Linked DNA regions of Homo sapiens: region 1 is linked to region 2. A link means that fine-mapping ties the variant in region 2 to the expression of a gene that starts in the linked region. Tissue or cell type: whole blood. Region 2 holds a variant in brackets; the other region holds the start of a gene. All regions are shown on one strand. Distances are between the middles of the regions. Region 1 holds the start of CARMIL1 (capping protein regulator and myosin 1 linker 1). Region 2 overlaps CARMIL1 (capping protein regulator and myosin 1 linker 1).

Evidence for each region. PIP is the estimated chance that this variant, and not a neighbour inherited with it, causes the effect.
Region 1: it holds the start of CARMIL1, and the variant in region 2 is fine-mapped to the expression of CARMIL1 in whole blood (INTERVAL, PIP above 0.99).

What each region holds. Positions count from the first base shown.
Region 1 is chr6:25,267,222-25,282,597 of GRCh38, reverse strand. It overlaps CARMIL1 (capping protein regulator and myosin 1 linker 1), which reads right to left and starts at 3,224. Exons shown (of 37, transcript NM_017640.6): 1 at 2,763-3,224. The coding sequence starts at 2,802. It also overlaps the pseudogene HNRNPA3P17. RefSeq lists a silencer at 3,027-3,496.
Region 2 is chr6:25,393,429-25,401,428 of GRCh38, reverse strand. All of the region lies in intron 2 of CARMIL1 (capping protein regulator and myosin 1 linker 1), which reads right to left. The region is part of intron 1 of LOC124901281 (a long non-coding RNA gene); the gene reads left to right. Among named protein-coding and RNA genes, the nearest start is that of CARMIL1, 120 kb to the right of the region's middle. The variant A/C (reference allele first, on the strand shown) is at 3,239.

The DNA of each region.
Region 1 (15,376 bases), 120 kb after region 2:
TATATGTTTAATAAGGGGTAATCAAAATTTTCTTCTTGGAAATACCGCCATGAAAGTTTAGAGCTGCTGAGATAAAGAGTGAAAACGGGGAGAAAAAGACAGTGTACGCATAAAGAACAGCATGGAAATCTGAGAAAGCACAGCCTGTTCAAGGAACAGCAAGGAGGTGGAATGTTTGGGGCAAGGGAACATGTAGAAGAGCTCACTGCACTATGAGTTCTTCACAAAGCTCCTATCTTATCAGAACTCGAGAAACAAGCACAGGCCACTCCTCCCTCCCCTAAAAAAGAATTGCGGGAAATGGGCATCTGAAATTGACTTAAGAACATATACACATGGAAACAGACTGGAAAATCATATACCCTTTAAAATAACTACCTCTAAGTGGTAACAGGAGTGACATATAGTCTTCTTATTCTTCTCTACATTTAAATTGTTTCTACATAAAGTCTATAACACTTTTTTTTTTTTTTTTTTTTTTTGAGATGGAGTTTCACTCTTATTGCCCAGGCTGGAATGAAATGGCTTGATCTCGGCTTACGGCAACCTCCGCCTCCCGGGTTCAAGTGATTCTCCTGCCTCAGCCTCCCGAGTAGCTGGGATTACAGCCACGTGCCCCCACGCCCAGCTAATTTTTGTATTTTTAGTAGAGACCGGGTTTCTTCATGTTGGTCAGGCTGGTCTCCAACTCCCGACCTCAGGTGATCCACCTGCCTCGGCCTCCCAAAGTGCTAGGATTACAGGGGTGAGCCACCACGCTCAGCCAAGTCTGTAACACTTTTTAAATATCTTGAGGGAATCTTAAGGGAATATATAGAGGTTTTCATGTGGTCGGTCGCCATTTTGAATTGATCAGAGCAGAACTCTTGTGAGCACTTGAATTTAGAGGAAAGCAGGTGCAGGTATTTATTCTATCCCAGCCTAACTTGACCACTGAAAGGCCCAGAAAAATCATATCGGGCATAATATGTCACTCTCTTGAAAGAGATAGGCAATACTTAATAAAAACAAAAATTCCATTTCAAGATAAAGGTCAAACTCAACTTTTAAAATATACAAACTATTCCTTTTGAGAACCATGAATAGAAACCCAGACACCTTATTTCCACTCTACCCTTCACTCTTTCTCTTGGGCCTAAGTAATTACCTACACTTTCCATTTCCAGACTTAAGGACAACTCCTTATATAAAGTAAAAATCTGCCACCCACTTTAGCCATCCTTATCCCCTGACCAGCCAGGCAAGCCCTGCCCTACACTCATTCTCAGGACCTCTGGAGGCGTCTTCAGAGCCTCTGGCGTTTGCTTGGGGTGTTGGAAAGGTCGCAGCCTCCCAGAACCGGATGTGTCACTCACTCCAGCAAAAGATGCAGACTCCACAGGGTTGGGGAGAGAGAAGAGGATCTGCTGGGATCATGATGAGAGGTGCGTGTGTGTGTGTGTGTGTGTGTGTGTGTGTGTGCGCGCGCGCACACGCGCGTGCGTCTGTGAATAATTTCATACTGTAAATTCTGGTAAAAGATCAGGTTTGTCTGTAATTCAGCAGAAGTAGGGGCTTCCATACAAACCTAGCAACAGCCTCTCTACATCAAGTTTTACCTGCTGAGTTAACAGTCACCAACGGAAGGGCATACACAAATTCCTCCAAAGTATTATTAGCTAAAAGAAACAACAGAGGGGCAAATTCCACACATGGAGATCAACGGGTGCTCAGAACTTCCTCTTGTTGTCAGCGCCGATTAAACATCATCTTTGTGAGCTGTAGGCTGTGTAGTGTGCCAAGAATGGTACAGGAGGGAATATAGGTCACTAGGGCTCAAAACACATCTGTACACAGACGCACATACCTTGTTACAGTATAACATGCTACACACATATACATGCTTAAACGCTAGGTTTTCAGAACACTCTCCCATCCTATTTCAGCTCTGCCATTTTAACCCTCCAGATAATTAAGTTAAACCCCAAGACTTAACCAGCCCCGCCCCCACCACCACCAAAAAAAAAAAAACCTCAAGGTACTCAAACAATGGGTCACCTTGCACAGCGTAACACACACGGGTTCCCTAAGAGATCCCCTATAGGGAGAATCGGTAGGTTAATCATTATTAAAATAAGGCTTTTATCATTAACCCTCTATTTCCTGGCCTGAGTCTGCGTCAGCCCTGTAACCCTTTCGCTCCCAGCTGGCTACACCAAGCCACACCTTGCCAAGCCCAGTCATTTTACCAGACTAGCGCCCACTCCCCCAAGTCTGCGTGTCAGAAGATCACCTCCCGCGGGGCATTTTCAGGAAAGCGCCTGACACGTGCCGGAGACGACCTACTGTGCGCTCGCCACCTGTCCTTCCAATAGGCTTTCCCGGACTTTCCCGAGTTTGGGGCAGTGGGCTGGGAGCTGTAAAGGGCTCCCCTCGCTTGCAGAACTCCCAAGTCTAAGATGGCCCGCCCCCTTCTTTCGCCAACCTGGATCCCCGCTTCCGGGCAAGAGGAGGTGCCCAGGGCTCACAGTCGAGACCCTCCTCCCACCCACCTCCCGAGGACTCCCGATTCCTCCCCGAAGCCTTCCCTCTCTGCACTTGGCTCTACAGGCGGTCGGATGGGAACAAACTTCCCGGCACCCCCAGTGACCCTGCCCAACACCACTCTGCCCTAAGGGGCGCCAAGACTTCTCGAGACCTGCGGGAAAGCAGAGGTGGGAAGGGAGAGAGAGGTGAGGAGTACGCAGAGGAAGGTGGAAAACCAACAACCGCGTGAATCTTACCTATCAACTCCCTGGGAACGTCAGAGCTCTCCTCGGTCATGGTTGCCCTGTAGGTGTGGGGGTTATTGCAGGTCCAACTCTGATTTATGGCCCCCTGCCCTTCCCCGAACTCCTCAATTTTTTTAGAGAGGCAGATGCAGCTTGCAAATGGAAGTGGGCAAGAAAAGGGGGGGCGGAGACAGAATTTTGCCGCGCGCCCCCCGCCCCACCAAAAAAAAAAAAAAGAGTTGCAAATGCGAGGCGGATTTGCTGCTGCTGCTACATGACGCCTCCTCGCAGTTCCCGGCGGCTGAATAAGGAGCGGACCGGATTACAAGCGGGCGCGGGGCGCGGGGCGGCTGTGGCGCCTGCTCCTCCTCCCGGCTCGCTGGTCCCCGGCGGGGCTTGGGCCGGCGTAGCTCCCGCCCAGCCTCCGCGCCGCACCTACAGCCCTAGGTGAAAGCGGAAGGCGTGGGAGAGGGCGGGGAGAGCGGCGCGGGGCGGGGGGAGTAGGTTTTCCTCGCGCTCCTGCCGGGCTCCGGCTGGGCGGGGGCAGCTCCGGCCCTCCTCCTTCTCCTCCTTCTCCTTCTCCTCTTCCTCCTGCGTTTCCTCCTCACCTCGCGAGAGCCGGCCTCCGCACCGGTGCGAGGCCGGCCTCCGGTGCCCGAGCGCTGGGTCCCCGGCGTAGGTCGCACCCCCAGGAGAGACGCTGTGCGGTGCTGCGGTGGCGGCGGCGGGCACCGCGCCCCTCCTCGCAGCCTCCCTCCCAAACCGCAAAAGCCCTGCGTCTGGAGAGGGGGCGAGCGGGCTCGCGAGAGAGCCCGGGAGCCATCTGCTGGCTGCGAGGGAGGAGAGCCGGGTGAGCCGGGCTTTCCATTTCCTTGTCCCCACTCCGGGCGGGCCAGGGGACCCAGAAGACGGGAGACGGCAGATTCTGCAGACCCGTCTACACGGAAGCTGGTTCTTTTTGGGACCCTCTTACGCACTTTTTCTTTTTCAACCCTCCCGGTGACATGTCACTTCATCATCGCTATTCTTCATTTCTGATGAGCTAGACGAAACCTGTGAACACTAATCATACCGTGAGAAGACACTTGTGTGTGTGCGTTCAGCTGGTGCTCTGCAGCCGCAGTTCGCTATCTCAGACATTCCCGTTGAGAGCGCCTTGGAAAATGCCTTTCACTCGGAAAAGTCTCTTTTATCCTCGGGGCATATTCAGGAAGCTGAGCTTTAATCACTGGAGCCTATGTAAGCCTGCGGATAGGTCTGATCCTACCTGGGCCCAAACTCCCTATGACTTCCCTGAGCTCCATCCCCAGAGGTTCAACTTCAGGGCCAAGAATACTTTGTGCCTCAATCGCTGCTTTTTAGCCTAGGGCTGGGAATGTCCCAGACTGTCTAATCAGGTTCTGCTTTTAAAGGACAGAAAAGGAGGAAAGGAAAGGGAATCCATGCACTTGGCAATCTAATTTTAAACACTGCTGTTGACCTTGGACCCCTTAGAATCATCTTCAGCCCCACAGCCAGGCCTTACCACTAAGGATTTGCCAACCTGGCCCCTTCCCACCCTCCTTAACCTCTCCCACTCCCTTCTCTATTACAACCAGACTCACTGTTTGCTTCCTCCTTCCTCTTAAGGTTATCTGATTCTTATCTATGTTTTCAAACCCATCCCAATGGTCTACCTTCTTTGTGAATATTTTCCAGGGATTTTCAGATTACTGTGATCCCTAAGCCTCTACAATATGTATTGCCTGAAACACTTTTCTAAACCCAACCATATGGTGTCGTGTTTCATTGCTTGTGTATTTGTCTGGTTTTACTATCTAACTCTTGCATTGTCCCCTGAGTTTGGATTTTTTCTGCCCAACTAGACTGTAGGTGAGTTGAAAGTGGGAATTTATCTTAGACTTTTGAACTTCTTCAACAGCCTAGTTCAAAATAGGTGTTCAATAAACATTTGTTAACTGATTTTAGAGCTTTGGACCTCAGGCCTCCAACCATTTGTTTCAAAAGTGGGCAATTTCTTTAAGCTAGACATTTCCTTAATGCATTAAATATATTTTTTCTGCAGTAAATGGAAATTAACATCTCAAACTGTCTTTCATTCAACCTGGTGTGTTAAAGAGGACTTTTCTGGCACATACCAATGAAGTTTCAGAAATGCCCTGAAGTTTCCAAACCATGTGATAACTTGTGAAAATAAGAACAAAAGTTTGTCTTTTTTTTTTTTTTCCTGTGGCCTGGGTGATGGAAAGAATAAAGGGAAGGCTGTATGGCAGTTCTGTAATTCAGTACTCTTTGGCTTCTTTTAAAGGAAGCTGGGGTTTCAATAAAAGAATCATTTTCACTGCAACAGGATCCTGATTGGCTCCTGCATCTCTGAAGAAGTGAATTCAAATGAATCTCCTATCACAACACTGAAAAATGACTGACTGATTTTGGAAATCAAAGTCATTTACTTCTCGGTTGCAAAACTCAAATATGTTTCAGAATAGCAAGCAGAGAACTCCAAGGAGCACTGTTTATAAAGCTGCAAACCCAACAAGCAGTAAACATCCCTAGCACCGTAAAACCATGGTGCCAGCTTGGAGAATGCAGTTTGCATTCTGAAATGTGTGCTTGTTTACTGAATCGGCCTGCCCCTTCTACTGCTACTGCTGCAAAAACAAACTTTTCTCACTCCATCACTCCAACTTCCTCAAATTCATCCCTGTTTATATAGTCTTGAATACACGAGTGATCAAACCACTACATGAAACTGATTGTGTTACATATGTGATTAGCCATAGCTTCATCTAAGTAAGTATTTACATGTGGCTGTGTTTAAGCCATACAACTAGTACTGATAATCTGAAAGCTGTTAGTAAGATAAAACTTTTTCAGAGAATCCCTACTGCATTTGAATCTGTAAAATGTTTAACATTTAACATATAGTGAGTGGCAACATTATTTTGAAAAGGAAGATGGAGAAGAGTGTAATTTGAAAAGCATGGCAAGGCCAGGTGCAGTGGCTCACATTTGTAATTCCAAATGCTTTGGGATGCCGAAGTGGGTGGATTGCTTGAGCCCAGGAGTTTGGGACAGACCAGACTGAGCAACATAGTGAAACCCCATCTCTTTTGAAACATACAGTGAGTGGCAACATTATTTTGAAAACTTATCCATGGATTTTTATTTTTAATTCTAAGCATATATTCACATCTATATAGTACATTTTGTAATGCATTATGGTCAGAAAACACTCTGAGTAAAAAAGTTTGCAGAAAATAGTGTCCCTAAAATGACACAACATGCTATCATTAGAACCATATCATGTAATGATTAAACCCATGGAGATAAAGCAAACAAAAAAGTTAAGAAGAAATCAGCACTCTAACAAAAAAAAAAATCACAAACTTACGTAGGTCAGTTTCTGATCTCGTCTACTGCATTAAGAACTGGTTTTAAAATGGAAAGGTATTCAGAAATGTGGGAACCACCAGCATTTTACTCCCCAAGTAATGATTTTAAGATTACCTTCCACCCCCAGTAACCATTGGGGAAGGGGCCTTCTTAAGAAGGTGTATTTTTCAACTTGGTTAATAAAGATCTTTCAGGAGGGTAGGCAATGTGAACTAAGCTTGCAAACACCTCTAAGAAAACTTAGTTTATCTCTGACTAGAAGACGGTGGAAGGTAAATGGCTATTAAACAATACTCCTTTAAAGTATTTACAAATGAAATTATATGAGACCTGAGATTTGCTTGAAAATAGCCCATAGGGATGGTGGGGGGTGGAGAGTATTGAGTAGAGATATAGATGAAATCAGAGTGACCTTGTGTTGATTTTTGTTGCAGCTGGATATCAGATCCATGGGAAGGCATTGCTTTCACTTTTGTATGTGTTTGCAATGTTTCATAACAATAATAAAACAGAACGAATCCTTAACACATGACTGAACAAAAAAGAGGAAAATCAACTCAGTCATTAATTCAGAACACATCTGTTTGAATGTGACATAATTAGAGCTCCCAGTTTTACAATGGTTTTCCAACTTCAGAACACTTGAACACTTCAATAGATAACGTGTTGTCTTGATTCAAAGAAACATTTTCTTATGTTAAAGTTACTGAAATCTGAATGTTTTATAATTGATATAGATGGTTAAAATCATGCTCTTCACACCCCATTCCCAACACAAATGCAAAATATATTATGAAATCCATGATTCATCTGACAATAAGTGACCTATGACAAGTGAGGAAATAAGGGTTTGACATATCTGAGCTACCCAGTGACTCCTTGGGTAAAAAGTATAATTACTATATCTTTATCACAATGAGGAAATAAGTTCACATTTGTGGAGTGACTTGCCCAGAGTCACAGCCTTAAGGGTCAAAGATTGAACTCAGAATTTGAGATTTCCAGGTAAATGTTCATTTTACTATAGTTGTTGTTGTTGTTGTTGTTTTGAGACAGGGTCTTGCTTGGTCACCCAGGCTGGAGTGCAGTGGCGCGCGATCTTGGCTCACTCCAACCTCCGCCTCCTGGGTTCAAGTGATTCTCTTGCCTCAGCCTCCCAAGGAGAGTAGCTGGGACTATAGGTGTGTGCCACCACATGGGGCTAATTTTTGTATTTTTAGTAGAGATGGAGTTTCACCATGTTGGCCAGGCTGGTCTCAAACTCCTGACCTCAAGTGATCCGCCAGCCTCGGCCTCCCAAAGTGCTGGGATTACAGGTGTGAGCCACGACACCCAACCCATTTTAATATCGTTTTTATGCTACTCTACAGGCTCCTAGGCTAGGTTCCCTGGGAAGCATACAGGTGACCAGGGCTTGGCCCCACTCACCTACAAGGAGCTCCTTCTCTAGGAGGATGATCAAGATGAGCTTCGATTGACCTGCAACTAGCCCAGTGCCAGCCACATAGTAGGTGAGGGAACATTCCTTCAGAAGGCTCAACTGAGCCAAGCCCTTTTATAAAATAATAAATACAAAATGTGCTAGATGTCAAAATGCGTTCAGTAAGTGCTATAGAAATTCGTAGGAGGGGGAGAGAGGAAGCAATAAAATGTGGAAAGGTTCTTATATAAATTGACTCAGCAAATATGAGTTGAGCACTTACTATTTGCCAGAGGTTGTAATGGTAAATTATGTGGCTGCTTCATGCAGCCCTCATGGAGCAGTCTAGAGGAGAAAGAGAGCAAGACCAAGACAAAAAAAAAATGCAACATCTTTTATAACTTAATCTTGGAAATGACATACCATCACTTCTGTTCTATTTTACTGGTCACATGGATCAACCCAGGTCAATGGAGGAAGGTGACACACAAGAATGTGAATACCAAGAGTTGGGAATCATTGAGGACCATCTTAGAGACTGGCTAAAGCAGAGAGAGAGAGAGAGAGAGAGAGAGAGAGAATGGGGCTAATGTAGAGAAAGTAAAGGATCAATGATTAGAGTAGCTGGGAATCAGGAAGGTAAGATACCAAGTTGGGAAGTTAAGTAAAAAATAATTCAAGAAGGGAGAAAGGGTTAACAGTGTCCTGTGCTGCTACAAAGTTAAATTTGATAAGGAATAATAATGCATACTTGAACTTAGTAATAAAGGAGGTATTGTTTTCTGTGGAAAGATATATTTTAGTAAAATGACAGAGAAGATAAAGTACAATGGGTTGAAGCATAATGAAGAGATGGAAAAGATGAAGGGAAAAAGGGAATACATATGACTCTAGAATTTTGAGGGTGACAAAAAGGAGAGAAGTAGCCAAAGGCCTACATAGAAGACTTTCTGTTAACCCTCGAAGATTTAATACTTACATTTATTTCTGCCACTTTCCAATGAGAGGAGAAGAATAAAACAGCATCAAGTCTCTAATGTAGATTATAGACTTTAATAATGTTGTATCAATATTATTACTAGCCCATTACTTGCAACAAATGTACCACACTGATGCAAAACAATGATAGGGGACACCGCTGGGGTAGGAAGCATATGGAAACTCTCTGTGCTTTCTGCTCGATTTTTCTGTAGACCTAAAACTATTCTTAAAAAAGAAGACTGCTCTTCCTCTCAGTCCCAAATTGAACTCAATTTGGAAAAGGCGAGTCCGGGCTCAAAATGGAGGCACATGATCCAAAGGAACCAGAGCACTTGAGAAAACTGTTTACTGTGTTCACAGCTTTGAAAATACAGACGATAGTTTGAGAAATGGCACATACTCACAGGCTGTGTGATAATGAGAGACTCCCAAACAACACATTCCAGAGGCTTTGGTTTTGTGACTTACTCTCGTGTTAAAGAGGTGGACACACAAGGCTGACAGGTGTGTACTGGAACCAAAGAGAGCTGTTTCTAGAGAGGATTCTATAAGGCCTGGTGCCCATCTAACCATGAAGAAAATCTTTGTTTGTGATATCAAGGAAGATAGAGAAGAATGTAATTTGAAGAGCATGGCAAGGCCAGGTGCAGTGGCTCACGTTTGTAATTCCAAATGCTTTGGGAGGCCGAAGTGGGTGGATTGCTTGAGCCCAGGAGTTTGGGACAGACCAGACTGGGCAACATAGTGAAACCCCGTCTCTACAAAAAAATGCAAAAATTAGCCGCGCATAGTGGCACGTGCCTGTGGTCCCAGCTACTTGGGAGGCTGAGATGGGAGGATTACTTGAGCCTGGGAGGTAGAGGGTGCAGTGAGCCAAGATTGCACGACTACATTCCAGCCTGGGTGACAGAGAGAGACCCTGTCTCAAAAAAAGAAAAGAAGGAAAGAGAGAGAGAGAGGAAAGAAAAGTATGGCACTATTTAAACCATAGATGTTATGGAAGGCAGGCAGAGTGGAAAAAAGAGGGGATTTGCTTTTTTAAAATTTACTTTTATTTATTTTTTATTTCGAGACAGGATCTCACTTTATCACCCAGGCTGGAGTGCAGTGGCCTGATCATAGCTCACTCAACCTCATGGGCTCAAGCAATCATCCCACCTCAGCCTCCCAAGTAGCTGGGAGCAAAGACATGTGCCATTACACCCAGCTGATTTTTAAATTTTTTGTAGAGATGGGGTCTCCTTATGTGGCTCAGGCTGGTCTCAAACTCCCTGGATCAAGCGATCCTCCCACCTTGGCCCCTAAAGTGCTTGGGAGGCATGAGCCACTGCACCTGGCTTTGCCATAACTTTTTAGGATCATAATACAGTTGATAAAGTTGTAATTGTCACAGAGCAAAATTTGGAGGCGGTGGAGGTAATTTTGGCTGTGGTGAAAACTTTGGTGGAAGAGGAGGCTATGATGGAGGTGCTGGAAGCAGAGATAGTTGCAGAGGAGGTGATGGTGAATATAATGGATTTGGAAGTGATGGTGGCAACTATGGTGGTGGTCTTGGTTATAGTAAAATAAGGGGCTATGGTGGTGGTGGACCAGGACATGAAAACCAAGGTGGTGGATATGGTGGCAATGGTGGAGGATGTGATGGTTGCAATGAAGGAGGAAATTTTGACAGTGGTAACTATGATGGTGGTGGGAAGTATAGTGATTTTGGAAATTATAGTGGACAACAGCAATCAAATTATGGACCCATGAAAGGAGGCTTTCTGGGTGGAAGAAGCTCGGGCAGTCCCTATGGTGGTGATTATGGATCTGGTGGTAAAAGTGGTGGATATAATAACAGAAGGTTCTAAAAAGCAGCAAAAAAGGGCTTCAGTTCCTAGCAGGAGTTAAAGTGAGGAGTTACCAGGAAAGCAGCAGGTTACTTTGAGACAGTCGTCTCAAATGCATTAGAGGAACTGGAAAAATCTGCCATAAAAGGAACAATTATCCATAGTTAGAAAAGTTACTGCAGCTTAAATAGGAAACCCTTCTTGTTCAGGACTGTCATAACCACAGTTTGCAAAAAATACAGCTATTGATTAATGCAATGTAGTGTCAATTAGATGTACATTCCTGAAGTCTTTTATCTGTTGTAACTTTTTTTTTTCTTTTCGTTACATCAGGTGTATGGCCCTGTAAATTGTGATAGTGGTACCAGGAATAAAGAATTAAAGAGTTTTTAACTTTTCAAAAAAAAGAAGCCTAATAATTTATATAAAAATGCATAGAGCAGCTGGGTGCAGTGGCTTATGCCTGTAATCCCAGCACTTTGGGAGGCAGAGGCAGGTGGATCACAAGGTCAGGAGTTCAAGACCTGCCTGGCCAAGATGGTGAAACCCCCTCTCTACTAAAAATACAAAAAAAAAAAATTAGCTGGGCATGGTGGTGGGCACCTGTAATCCCAGCTACTCTGGAGGCTGAGGCAGAGAATTGCTTGAACCCGGGAGACAGAGATTTCAGTGAGCTGAGATCATGCCACTGCACTCCAGCCTGGGTGACAGAGGGAGACTCCATCTCAAAAAAAAAAAAAAAAAAAAAAGCATAAAGCCACAAGGACAAAGAAAATAGGAGATAGTAACAAACAAGAAAATTCAACATTTTGGATCTGAGAAAGCTAATAGATGCATGGTAGCTGACTTAGCAGACTAGTGAAAGATAAACTCTAACCCTCCGGGGAGAGAGTGAATAAAAAGCAAGTTAATTTCTATAGCAGAATCCAAGAAAAATCTCAGGAACTAGATACATAAGTTATCTCTAAATGCGGAAGTACAGAATGAAGGAGGATTGGTACAGATTTTAAAAGCTCTAGACACTCCATAGATTCCCTCCCCTACCTCACACAGCCAGTCTATGCACCCCCTGCACAGCTGCCTCAGATGGGAAGTTAACTCTTTGGAGAGGTTAAACCAAAAAAGACCTAGTCTTGGAACAGCAGAGGGTGAAAGTGAGAAGCCATACCATATGGAAAGGGAAATATTCCTAAATATAAGCCCCTCAAAAATTCATTCTCTGTTTAGTTATCAGAAGTCTAGCAGCAAGGCTTATAATTCCAGTCAGAGAATTGGAGAATTCCTCTCCTATGTTATTAATCATCTTTAAATGAAAAACCTATGAGATACTGACCTACAGGGACTGGCCAGTGAATAGGTCAAGTCCCCACCTGTCCCCCTCAATTGAGACCCACCATTTGACAAAGCCTGCCCATTCATGTAAAGCTTCAGATCAGCTTTGTTATGCCTCACTGTAAATACAGACATCAAAGGCACACTGACATTTGAGGAAAGCCTCTACCATGAAAGCCAGAGACCAAAACAAACAAACCCCAACAAGGGACATAGAAGAGCATGGAAGTAAAAGAAAACTTCAAAAATCTGTAGTGAGAGAAATTCTGCCTCTGGCTGCAATGGAATAGCAAGGATTGGACATTCTCTCCCACAAAAACCCAGAAAAATATGCAGAACGTAAAAAGCTTTTATTTTTCAAACATTGGACATCAGGTAGGACAAGATTTAATCACTAAAAGAAGTTGAAACAAACAAGGTGATCACTATGATTGCCCCTGATATCTTCCTGGAAATAACCAGACTGTAGATGCAAAGAGGGGGATCCTAAACAGAGTCTATTGAGTCAAGCAGATGTAGGGATCAGAGAGGCCAAGGGGGCTGAATGTTACGAGGTAGAGTTCTAGAGATGAGGGAGCTGTGCTGAAAAGAGCTCCAAAAATCTGCATAGGGGTCTCTTTGAGTCTTTGCTGTGTATGTGGCCAGACAGGAATAAGGTGAAACTCCACAAGGGCAGGCAAAAACCACTGGAGAATTGTAAGGTGAACTACTTCTAGAGCTCACACAGGGCAGAGAGATATTTGAGTTCTGACCAGTCCAAGTGGGAAGTCATCTGTTCTCATTTTGGGCATCTGGTGGAGACTTTGAGAAGCTGGGAAAAGAAGAGAAAATAAAATCCAAAGTAAATAGAAGAAAGAAAATAATACAGGTCATAGCAGAAATCAATGAAATTGAAATTGGACCCATAACTTTTTAAAATTAGTAAAACTTAATCTGGGTCTTTGCAAAAAAATTTATTAAATTTTATGCAACACTTGGTGGACTGATCAAGACAAAAAGATAGAAGACACAAATGACCAATATTAGGAATGAGAGGGGGACATGATTACAAATATTAAAAGGGATAATATTGGAGATATTATGAAGAACATTATGCCAATAAATTTTACAGGTTAAATGAAACCTACACATCCCTTGAAAGATAAAAATGTCAAAAGTGACTCAAGAAGAAATAGAAAAAATCTGAAAAGCCCTAAATCTACGAAAGACATTTGAATTTCAAAATAAAAACCATCCCATAAAGAAAAGGAAAAACAGTCACATCAATTATCTCTTTACACACACAAACAACCATAAGGCAAAATTCAACATCCATTCAAAATAAAAACTCTCATTAACTAGGATAGAGGAGAATTTCCTCAAATTAATAAATTGAATCTATGGAAAACCTATAAGTAATGTTATATTTACTGGTGGAAGCATTTAGTCCCCCTTATGCTTCCCTCCTTAAATCAGAACCAAGACAAGAGTATCTACTCTTCCTATTTATACTCAATATTATGCTAGAAGTCTTAGCAATACTAATAAGGCAAGAATAAGAAATGAAAGACATAATGGGCAGAAAGGAAGAAAAGCCTGTCTTATTTGAAGATGGCATGACTGTATACATAGAAAATCCTAAGCAGGCCAGGCATGGTGGCTCACGCCTGTAATCCCGGAACTTTGGGAGGCCGAGGAGGGCGGATCACGAGGTCAGGAGATGGAGACCATCCTGGCTAACACGGTGAAACCCCGTCTCTACTAAAAATACAAAAAATTAGCCAGGTGTGGTGGTGGGTACCTGTAGTCCCAGCTACTCGGGAGGCTGAGGCAGGAGAATGGTGTGAACCTGGGAGGCAGAGCTTGCAGTGAGCCAAGATGGCACCACTGCACTCCAGCCTGGGCTACAGAGCAAGACTCCGTCTCAAAAAAAAAAAAAAAAAAATTTGCTGGGCATGGTGGTGTGTGCCTGTAGTCCTAGCTACCTGGGAAGCTAAGATGGAAGACTCACCTGAGTCCAGAAGGTCGAGACTACAGTGAGCCATGATCCCACCACTGTACTCCTGCCTGGGTGACAGAGTGAGATCTTGTCTCAAAAAAATAAATAAAATAAAATAAAGAGAGAGAAACACTCAGCAATAAAACGAAATGAACTAATATTATATATGGCAATATGGATGAATCTCAAAAACATTATGCTAAGAAAAAGAAATCTAGACACAAAAGAGTGTGTACTTGTGGTAACAGGAGGCATACAGTTGTCTAACCTCAGATTCCATGGGGATTCTATTTTTGGAAATCAGAAAAGATAAAATAACTCTCAGAATGATATATATATTACTAGAAATGTTTATTTCTGTAGGTTATTGGGAAGAATCTGCTTTGTACCTCATTCAGGATGTTGACAGAATTTAGTTCCTTGTGATTATGGAACTGAAATCTCTGTTTCCTTGCTGGCTGTCACTCAGGGCCCATTCTCAGCTCCGAGGGCCAGCTTACTTTCCTTGGCATGTGGCCCCTTTCCATTTTCAAAGTGAGCAAAGCTAGAATCTCTCTTGCATCAAACTCCTCTCATGCTTCTAACCTCTTTCACCAGAAAGAGACTTGTCCTTTTTAAGGACTCACCTGGACAGGTCAGGACCACCAAGTATAGTCTCTCTTTCTCTCTCTCTCTCTTTTTTTTTTTTTTTTTTTTTTTGAGACAGGGTCTCACTGTGGTTGCCCAGGCTGGAGTGCGGTGGCACAATATTGGCTCACTGCAGCCTCAACCTCCCAGGCTCAAGTGATTCTCCTGTCTCAGCCTCCTGAGTAGCTGGGATTACAGGTGCACACCACCATGCGTGGCTAACATTTTTGTATTTTTAGTAGAGACAGGGTTTCACTACATTGCTCAGGCTGGTCTCAAACTCCTGGACTCAAGCAATCTGCCTGCCTTGGCTTCCCAGAGTGCGGGATTGCAGGCGTGAGCCACTCACTGCACCTGGCTAGTCTCTCTCTCTCTCTCTCTCTCTCTCTCTCTCTTTATTTATTTATTTATTTATTTATTTATTTAACTTTAAGTACTGGGATACATGTGCAGAACGTGCAGATTTGTTACATAGGTATACAAGTGCCATGGTTGTTTTCTGTACCCATCAACTTGTCATCTAGGCTTTAAGCCCTGCATGCATTAGGTTAATTCTCTCCCTCCCTTTCCTCCTCACCCTAGTCCCTCTTTCTTAAAGTCATCTGTACTACATATAACACAACCTAATAATGAAAGATCCCATCATATTTACAGGTCCCTTCCATGCTCTAGGGGAGGGAATATACCACAATCTGCTACCACAATAAAGTTGGCATAAAACATAGAAAAAATTAAGAGAAATTTCAGCAAATCATTGTATTGTGAATGCTGAATGATGGGCGATACGTGTTTTTGTTTAGTTTTACTAACTTTGTTGTGTATGTGTGTGTGTGTTGTATTTTTAGCATATTGATCAATCACAAAAAGAATACTAAACTACTTTTATTAGTGAATGTACTTATTTTTCACATTTCTTTTCTATTTTTATTAATATCTGTATACTCAGGATTAACCTTTGTTGTTTGCTTCTGTCCTCTGGAACCTGATATCTGGGGCAATTTCAAAAAGTAATTTCTGAAGTGGGGGCAATAAATAAGTCAACCTAAAAAGAGAAAATAGCAGT
Region 2 (8,000 bases):
AAGCAAACATAGGAGCTGACTATCCTTGCTTTTTACTCCAATATATATACACACACAATGTCATATACACATTTTATATGTGTATCTATAAACACACACATTTTGTGTGTGTATGTATATATACATATACATTTTGTGTGTGTGTGTTTGTGTATAAAATGTTTCTTCTGGGGGGGAATATTAAAATTAGCAATTGCATCCCTGCAACATTATTAATTAAGAGCTGAGACATAACAATGTTATAAAAGCAAAGGTGAAACAAATGTGAACCGTTAAAATAATTCAAAACTGTATAAATGTTATTAGTTCCTGTGAAATAAGCATAAATATACTAAATATATTATATATGGAGATAAAAGTACCATACAATATGCAGGAAAACCCTAAAACTAGAACTATATCATAAATCTAAACTAAAGTAAGTATGTTAGCTATTTAATAATAAAAATATATTCTTTTGCTTCTTGGAATTTAGAAAAATTTCTTAAGGATGGCTTGGTTAGCCTGGTCTTCTCAATGAGTCTGGGCAAGTCTGAATTGATGGTTCCTCTTAGTGAGAGGAGACTCAAACAATAGGCAGAGGCTTTATATATGTTTCATGATGACACTGAAGATTCTAGGAACAATTGGTTTTTGAAGTGCTAACATAGAGAAAGGCAGACTTTCCTCTGCTATCAGTTACCTTCCCTAAGAAGGTTGCCAGCTGTGTGACATCACTTGGGTAATCATTCTGATGGCCATTATTAGAGAAAAACCCATTTCCTTCTAAAATGACTTTGTTTTAGTTCCCCAAGTTATAAGTTTTTAAAGGAGCTTTGGGATATGAATTCAAAAAATTCCCAGTCTTAATTCTGAACATTTTTTTGGCCATTACCATGAAGCACAGCTGGTGGGGGGATGGATATAATCTATTTCTCATCTATAGAGCATTTTACAACAAAAGGTGACAATAAAAATTCCATCATTATGCTTAAAAAGTCCCTCTGATTCCCTGGGAAACTCATGGAAGGAAGACTGATTCTAATTCTTCCAAATCATGCAGGAAGGAAAAGCATCCAGGAAGATGCACATTCATCTAAAGCACTGAAGATAAAGCAGTCAGAATGGGCACAGGCAGAACCAGGCGCTGGGTGTGGACTTTCTTTATAGGCCTTATCCCTTTTCCCTGAAAATGCCAAGTGGGTGCACCATGGATCGTGCTAGGTTAGCATGATTTACATGGAGATTTTAAGGTAAAGATAGAGAACTAAAGACAGAAAGGAATTGAGGCTAAGGACAGAAATGGAAGCTGCACAGATGTACTGCATGGATTCTATGAGTCAGACAATACCTACAGATATAATTGTAAGGTGAATGGTACAGCGCTTCTCAAGACAGACACGCCTGGACCAGCTCCACCATTTACTAGCTGTGTGATTTGGAGCGAATTATCAGATCCCCTACACCTCACCCTTGGCTGTAAAAACACATAATGTAGTATCTACCTCCTATAAGTGTCGTGAAGATTAAATAAGAGGATGTATATAAAACTTTTTAGCACACAGCCTAGCTAACAACAGCTCAAAAGATACTAGTTATCTAATGAGAATTAAAATAACAGTCATAGTTCAACCAGTAATAACAGCTCTCTGAAAGGCCGAGCTAAATATTTTTTAATTCCCTTAACATATCAGTAAAGCAACTGAAATTGGAAATAAAATTTCCTCCAGGCATAATTTGATTTACACGTTCTCTAGGGATTACATGAAGGCCCCACACAGAACAGGTTCTATCCAAATCACCCCTCCACATTCATTAGCATCATTTTTTAGTTAAATAAGTTAAACAAAACTTATATTTTTCACTTCTTAGAAGTCAGCCTGTTATATTTTCTGAATGCCTTAAGGCTTAGTTTGATATGTGGTTTCAATGCCTCTGACATTTTTGCCAGATTTGACCAATTTGCAACCATTCCCTGAAATCTGCCTCATATCCAGTCACCAAACATAAACCATCCACGATACACTTAGAACATTCGGGTCTCCTATTAGCTTCCCCAGTCAAAGAGACCATGGCTGTTGAGGGTCTTCTCTAATGCAAGGGTTGCATCCTCACCTGGGCAGGTAGACAACCACATTCTGGCAGAGCCAGACAATGGCAAGTCCAGAATCCTGAGCAGAAACACTTGGAACGACTGTCATAGTAGCCGTGCAGCCCCTACCATCTGTATTACACCTGCAAAACCAGGGGCCTAAGGCCTTTTTCTAGCCACAAAAGGCTGTGCATCCTGGATCGCTTACATAAGTATCAAAAAGTATCCTTCCAGAGGCCTTCTCTCCACACACTAGTTCATAATAGCTCTTCCTTTTTTGAACCATCTGTGAGCGGGGAAGAAAAGGGGGGTGTTTTTGAAAACTGCTGTAAACCAGAAGTGGCAAGGCACTTACCTTATCACGTTTAACTCCATGAGGAAGGTACCATGATTCTCTTGTTATAGACAAGGAAACCAAGACTCAAAGAGGTTTATAACAATTTAACTTGTCCCAACAACATTGATAAGAGTTAGAATTTGAACCCTCAATTATCAGCTTCAAAAGCCACATTCCCTGCAGCACCCCATGAGGTGAGCCTCTCCTTGCTAATGCTTCTCATCAATACCCCAGACCAGCTCTTGGGGCTCATATCCTTGGTTACATTATTTACTCATAAAAGTCTTCGCATGGGGAGCAATAATTTGCATGATTCTGGAAGGGCTTGTTCATGTCACACTTCACACAGCACAGTGTCTGGTATAAAGCAGATAGTCGTCTGATCTAAATCTTCTATTCCCATAGCCAGCACATAGCTAGCCTGTGTCGTCTGCATATGATTATCACATAAACAGGACTTGCTAACACCAAGCTTTGGAAAACAAACTTCTTCCCACCCACTAACAGGCTAGTTGGTAATTAAAACCCACATTGATTTATCACCGTAAGCACTTTACACAAGAAACAGATTAACTAGAATTAAGGACACTCATGACAAACCTGTATGTGAAACCTTTGGGGGACAAGAGAAATATCCATTACTTTAATATACTTGCTGATTTCTCTATTTGTGAGTTTTCATGACTGATGATGTTCCTTTGCCACTGGTCATCAAAAAGGCTTATCATAGTTGTGAATTCTGAATACAAACAAATGAATTATCCCTAGTTGAGAGCTCTTGGTGGAAGAGGTCCTAGTCATGACATCACTAGGTCTTACTATAGGAAGTA[A/C]AAAATTCCACCCATACCAGAAAAATATAAAATTACCTTGTTCATTAATTTTTAAATAGTTCTTTACCCAGTTGTTCCTCTTTTGCAGTAACCCAACATTCAGAGATATGGCTCCTTTTCTAATTCTTTAGAAAATGTAATCTTTTCCCCTCTAATATTCTTAAATCCTCCAAATTTGCATTAAATAACATCAATATTAAATGATAATCCAGAAAAGATGTCAGTATCTTCCCTCACTGCATGCACATGCACACACAGACACAGAAAGCATGTGCTATTTGAATGAAAATAAACCTAAATGTATTTTAAATCTATGTATATGTTAAAAAGCTTATTTGCCCAATTTAGGTGTCTAAAATTAAGATTTCACGTTTCATGTATTCCCCGAGAAAATTAAGCTGAGTGATGGAATACCTAGGAGTCCATTAGTGGAAAAGAGATGATGTCCCAAGGAAGAAACTATACTAGAGTTAATCCAGACACCACCATCCTTTATCCAGATAATAGCATTTCTCTAAGCAGCCCAGTGAATACCATGCTATTCACTTGACTGAAAACCCTCATGTGTCAAATAATGGCCTCTTCACAGGCACTGTGATAGCAGATTCCTTAGATAACCAGTGGCAAAAGTGCATGTAAAAACACCCTTTGTTTGGCAGCTACGGCCACAACTTTCATTGCTTACCCTCTACCCCTTCAGACTCCCTATCTGCCCCACCCTATGCACCAGATGTCCCCATTCCTATTGACTGCTTGTCCCTCATGCTCTACTTGCTGCCATTTACCAAAACCATCAAGAATTTTATTCTGACCACCTGCTTGAAGATGCCCTCTTGAAAGGGGATTTGGACCACAATTAGCCCAACAGCCTGCAAGGCCCCCTTGGCAGACACCAGCACTTCCGCTTGTATGAGGGCTTAACCAAGAAGGACTTGCTTTTGTGGAGTTGGGGAAATAAAGGGTTTTTTTGGGGGAAAAGAAGTTCAAATGACTGAGCTAGAAAGAACCTTAAGAATGCTTAATTCTTTGCAGCACTTAGCTGTAAATATGCCTGCAAACCTTTTCTGGAGTTTTAGCCCCCTGAGGGCAGGACAGTGTCTCATGATCTTCATCTTGGTATCCCCCCTCAATAAGTGTTTGCTGAATGACAACCTCCTCCTTGATGCCGCTCTCATGAGCTAGGTTGTACATGAAAATTGTTAATCAGCTGGGGACTAGATGGCTTAAAATAAATGGCCCCATGTGTTACAGAAGACACTGGACCGGCAATCAGAAGACAGGTTCTCATCCCTACTCTGCCATTAAATAGCCATTTAATGTTGGGTGAGCCCCTTGTCCTCTCTGAGCCCATTTCCGCATCTCTGCATGGAGTGAAAAATGCCCATCTCTAAGGACGCTGTGACTCCATTATTATTCCGTGGCAGTTTTAGAAGTAGAAAAGTGTACTTTTCTACTGACAGCAAAGGTTGTTAATACAAAAAAATAAACAAAGTTACCATGAGTTAGTGAAACTACCTTAAGATTAAAACGGCCAGGCATGGTGGCCCACGCCTGTAATCCCAGCACTTTGGGAGGCCGAGGCGGGCAGATCACTTGAGGTCAGCAGTTCGAGACCAGCCTGGCCAACATGGTGAAACCCCGTCTCTACTAAAAATACAAAAATTAGCTGGGCGTGGTGGTGGGTGCCTGTAATCCCAGCTACTCGGGAGGCTGAGACAGGAGAATCGCTTGAACCCAGAAGCCAGAGGTTGCAGTGAGCCGAGATCATGCCACTGCACTCCAGCCTGGGTGACAAGAGCAAAACTCCATCTCAGAAAAAAAAAAAAAGGAAAAAAAAAAATTAAAACATGATATTTATTTTCCCAGGATGGTTTTGCTTCTGGTGAAGGTCTCTTTCAGCTCTGTAATTCTGTGACCCAGTGAGAAATTTTGAAAGCAATGTTATAATTCTACTATTAAATTTAGATGTATTTATAATGTTGTGGCTTATAAAATGAAGTAGACAGTCTTAAAAAAAAAAAGCAGAATAATTTTAAATTTTCCTGAAAAGAAATGGGGCAAGCCCTCCAGGTAGTGCTGTCAAAATAAACCTGCTCAGCTTTTTCACAGGGAATCCGCATACCCTGAAGGGGATGAATCTCATATAAGGAAAAGCTTGAGTGCCACCCTTCAGTGGCAGTAGAGAAATAACCACAGGGCAGAAAAGACTGGGAGGAGGGCAAGGCACAGAAACTGTACGCAAGATCTGTGACATATGGAAGTCACAAGGACCCGCATGATCCTAGGAGCCATCCAAGTGGACAAGTCAACACACAACAGCATGAACAACAGGCTTCATTCCCCGGCTGGAAACCACCTTTCCACTTGCTTATGTCTTACCTCAATAGGAAGACAAACGCAATTTTCTCATTTCCTCCATCCTCTATGTAAAATTATCATTTATAACAGCAACTTTTGAGGAATGCTAAGAGTGACTTGCAAATGCTTAGGCAGATCACTGATTCAAAAAGCGAGCAATACTATATGAGCAATCATTAAAGAAGGTCCCAAAATGTAACTTATGTATAACAAAAAGACTTTTAAAATTGATGTTACTTTTAAATTTTGTAACAAGAAAAATAAGTGAAAACAAAACGGTCATTATCTCTATTTCTGCCAGAAGATGCATTGTTCAGTTAACAATCTTATTCAGAGATATTGATCAAGGAATGGCCGCAATGAGGGTCAATTAAAAATAGTTTCTTTTAACTTGAATTTTTAATTTGAAAAGATTTGCATAGTCCAAAGAAGATAATGCTGCTATTGGAGCAAGATGTTTCTAAATTTTCAGCGGTGTCAATCATTTATAACAGAAGATGCCTTATTTACTCTGTCACTCAACCAATGTTGACTAATGATGTCACAGCAGTCACTTGTTTCTGTATCCTGTACGTCCTCTCCAGGATGTTTCTCCTTGCACCGCCGTCCCGACAATGCATATTCTTAACAGCGCATGGGCTTGGGGACAGCAACGCACAGAAATATGTCCATGCTTACAATGATGTAAGCCAATTCAGCGAGCTCCTAGTCCCCAGTAGGGTTTTAATTTTCATTTTTTTGTGACTTGCTGGTAAATTTAGACAAAATCATGGAGAGAAATAAAGGGAAAAAACTTGAAGGGACAATATTTTTTAAAGTGCCTTGTGAAATGTAATTAGATACACCTTACCATAAATAGTCTAAGAGTTACCATTAATCGGAATATATTTTAAGGTTTCCTGGGTGTATTTCTCCCCAAATTATTTTTCTCTGCTAAGGCAAAAGGAAATAAGTAACATATTTACTTATAAACAGTAAGACATTTCCAAATAGGTAGTACTCATTTGCTGGAATAATTAATCTTCTCACAGAAACCCCAAAATAGTAACTGTTAATGTATAAATGTTTCTTTTAAGTACAATTAGGTAACTCTCCTTTACTGAAACCCTTGATTTCTAACAATTTCAGTACGGTTATTTATATTAAAACATCAATCCAACAACTCATAGTGGCTCTGTCCATTAGACTGGCTTGAGAGGAGAGACCCTGACTTAACCACTTGCACAAACCCAACACTTGGTACAATTGCCACACAGTAGTCATTAAACCAACCTGAATCACAAAGAGCTGCAGTAGTTATTTTTCCTATTCCTAAATGGTGTCTTACTTCTTTTTTCACTGATTTTACAGATTAAAAGCAAGCAAACAAACAAGGCTTACTCAAGTGTTTACCAGATTTCTGACTTAGCCCCTCAGGAACTGTGTAATATTGGGTAGATGATTTAACCTCTCTGTGTCTCAGTTTCCTCTTCTGTAAAACAGAAATTAATTTTAGCACTTTAGCACTTGTCTTCTAGCGTTGTTAGAAGACTGAATGAGTTAATAGTGTGCTGCTTTGTGCTGGCTACTGTGTCATCATAACCATCACTATCACTGCCAAGAAGATGAACAAAATCATAGCGGGAAGGGCTCCATTTCCCAGGGAAAATAACTATCATGCATCTTTCTCTGTAAATACAAGTTTGTAAACACTGGCTAATGACAGAGGGATGGAGAGATATGTGATAAAGCAAGTAAAATGTAAATGGTAGAAACTAAGTGGTGGTATGTGGGTGCTCACTTAACACTCTTTCAACTTATCTGTATGTTAGAAAAATTTCATAAGAAAATGGCAAAAGAATCACATAAGGCAGAAATAGGTGAAAAAGAAAAGGGAACTTAGCGTGGAAGATCAGCCACACTACCTCCCCAAGAACGTATTATTCATCAATAACAATAGCAACAACAATCATGATCTTTCTTTTCTTTTTTCTTTAAGAGATGGGGTTTCACTCTGTTGCCCAGGCTAGAGTGTGTGGTGCAATCAGAGCTCACTGCAGCCTCCAACTCCTGGGTTCAAGCGATCCTCCTGCCTCAGCCTCTCAAGTAGCTAGGACTACAGCTAATTAAAAAAAAAAAAAAATTGTAGAGCAGGTCTTGTTATGTTGCCAAAAATGGTCTCAAACTCCTGGCTTCAAGTGATCATCCCGCCTCAGCCTCCCAAAATGCTGGGAGTACAGGCATGAGCCACCATGCCCTACCTAAAAACTTAACCATGATTTTTTTTTTTTTTTTTTGAGATGGAGTTTCATTCTTGTTGCCCAGGCTGAAGTACAATGGCGTGATCTCGGCTCACTGCAAACTCTGCCTCCCAGATTCAAGCAATTCTCCTGCCTCAGCCTCCCAAGTAGCTGGGATTACAGGT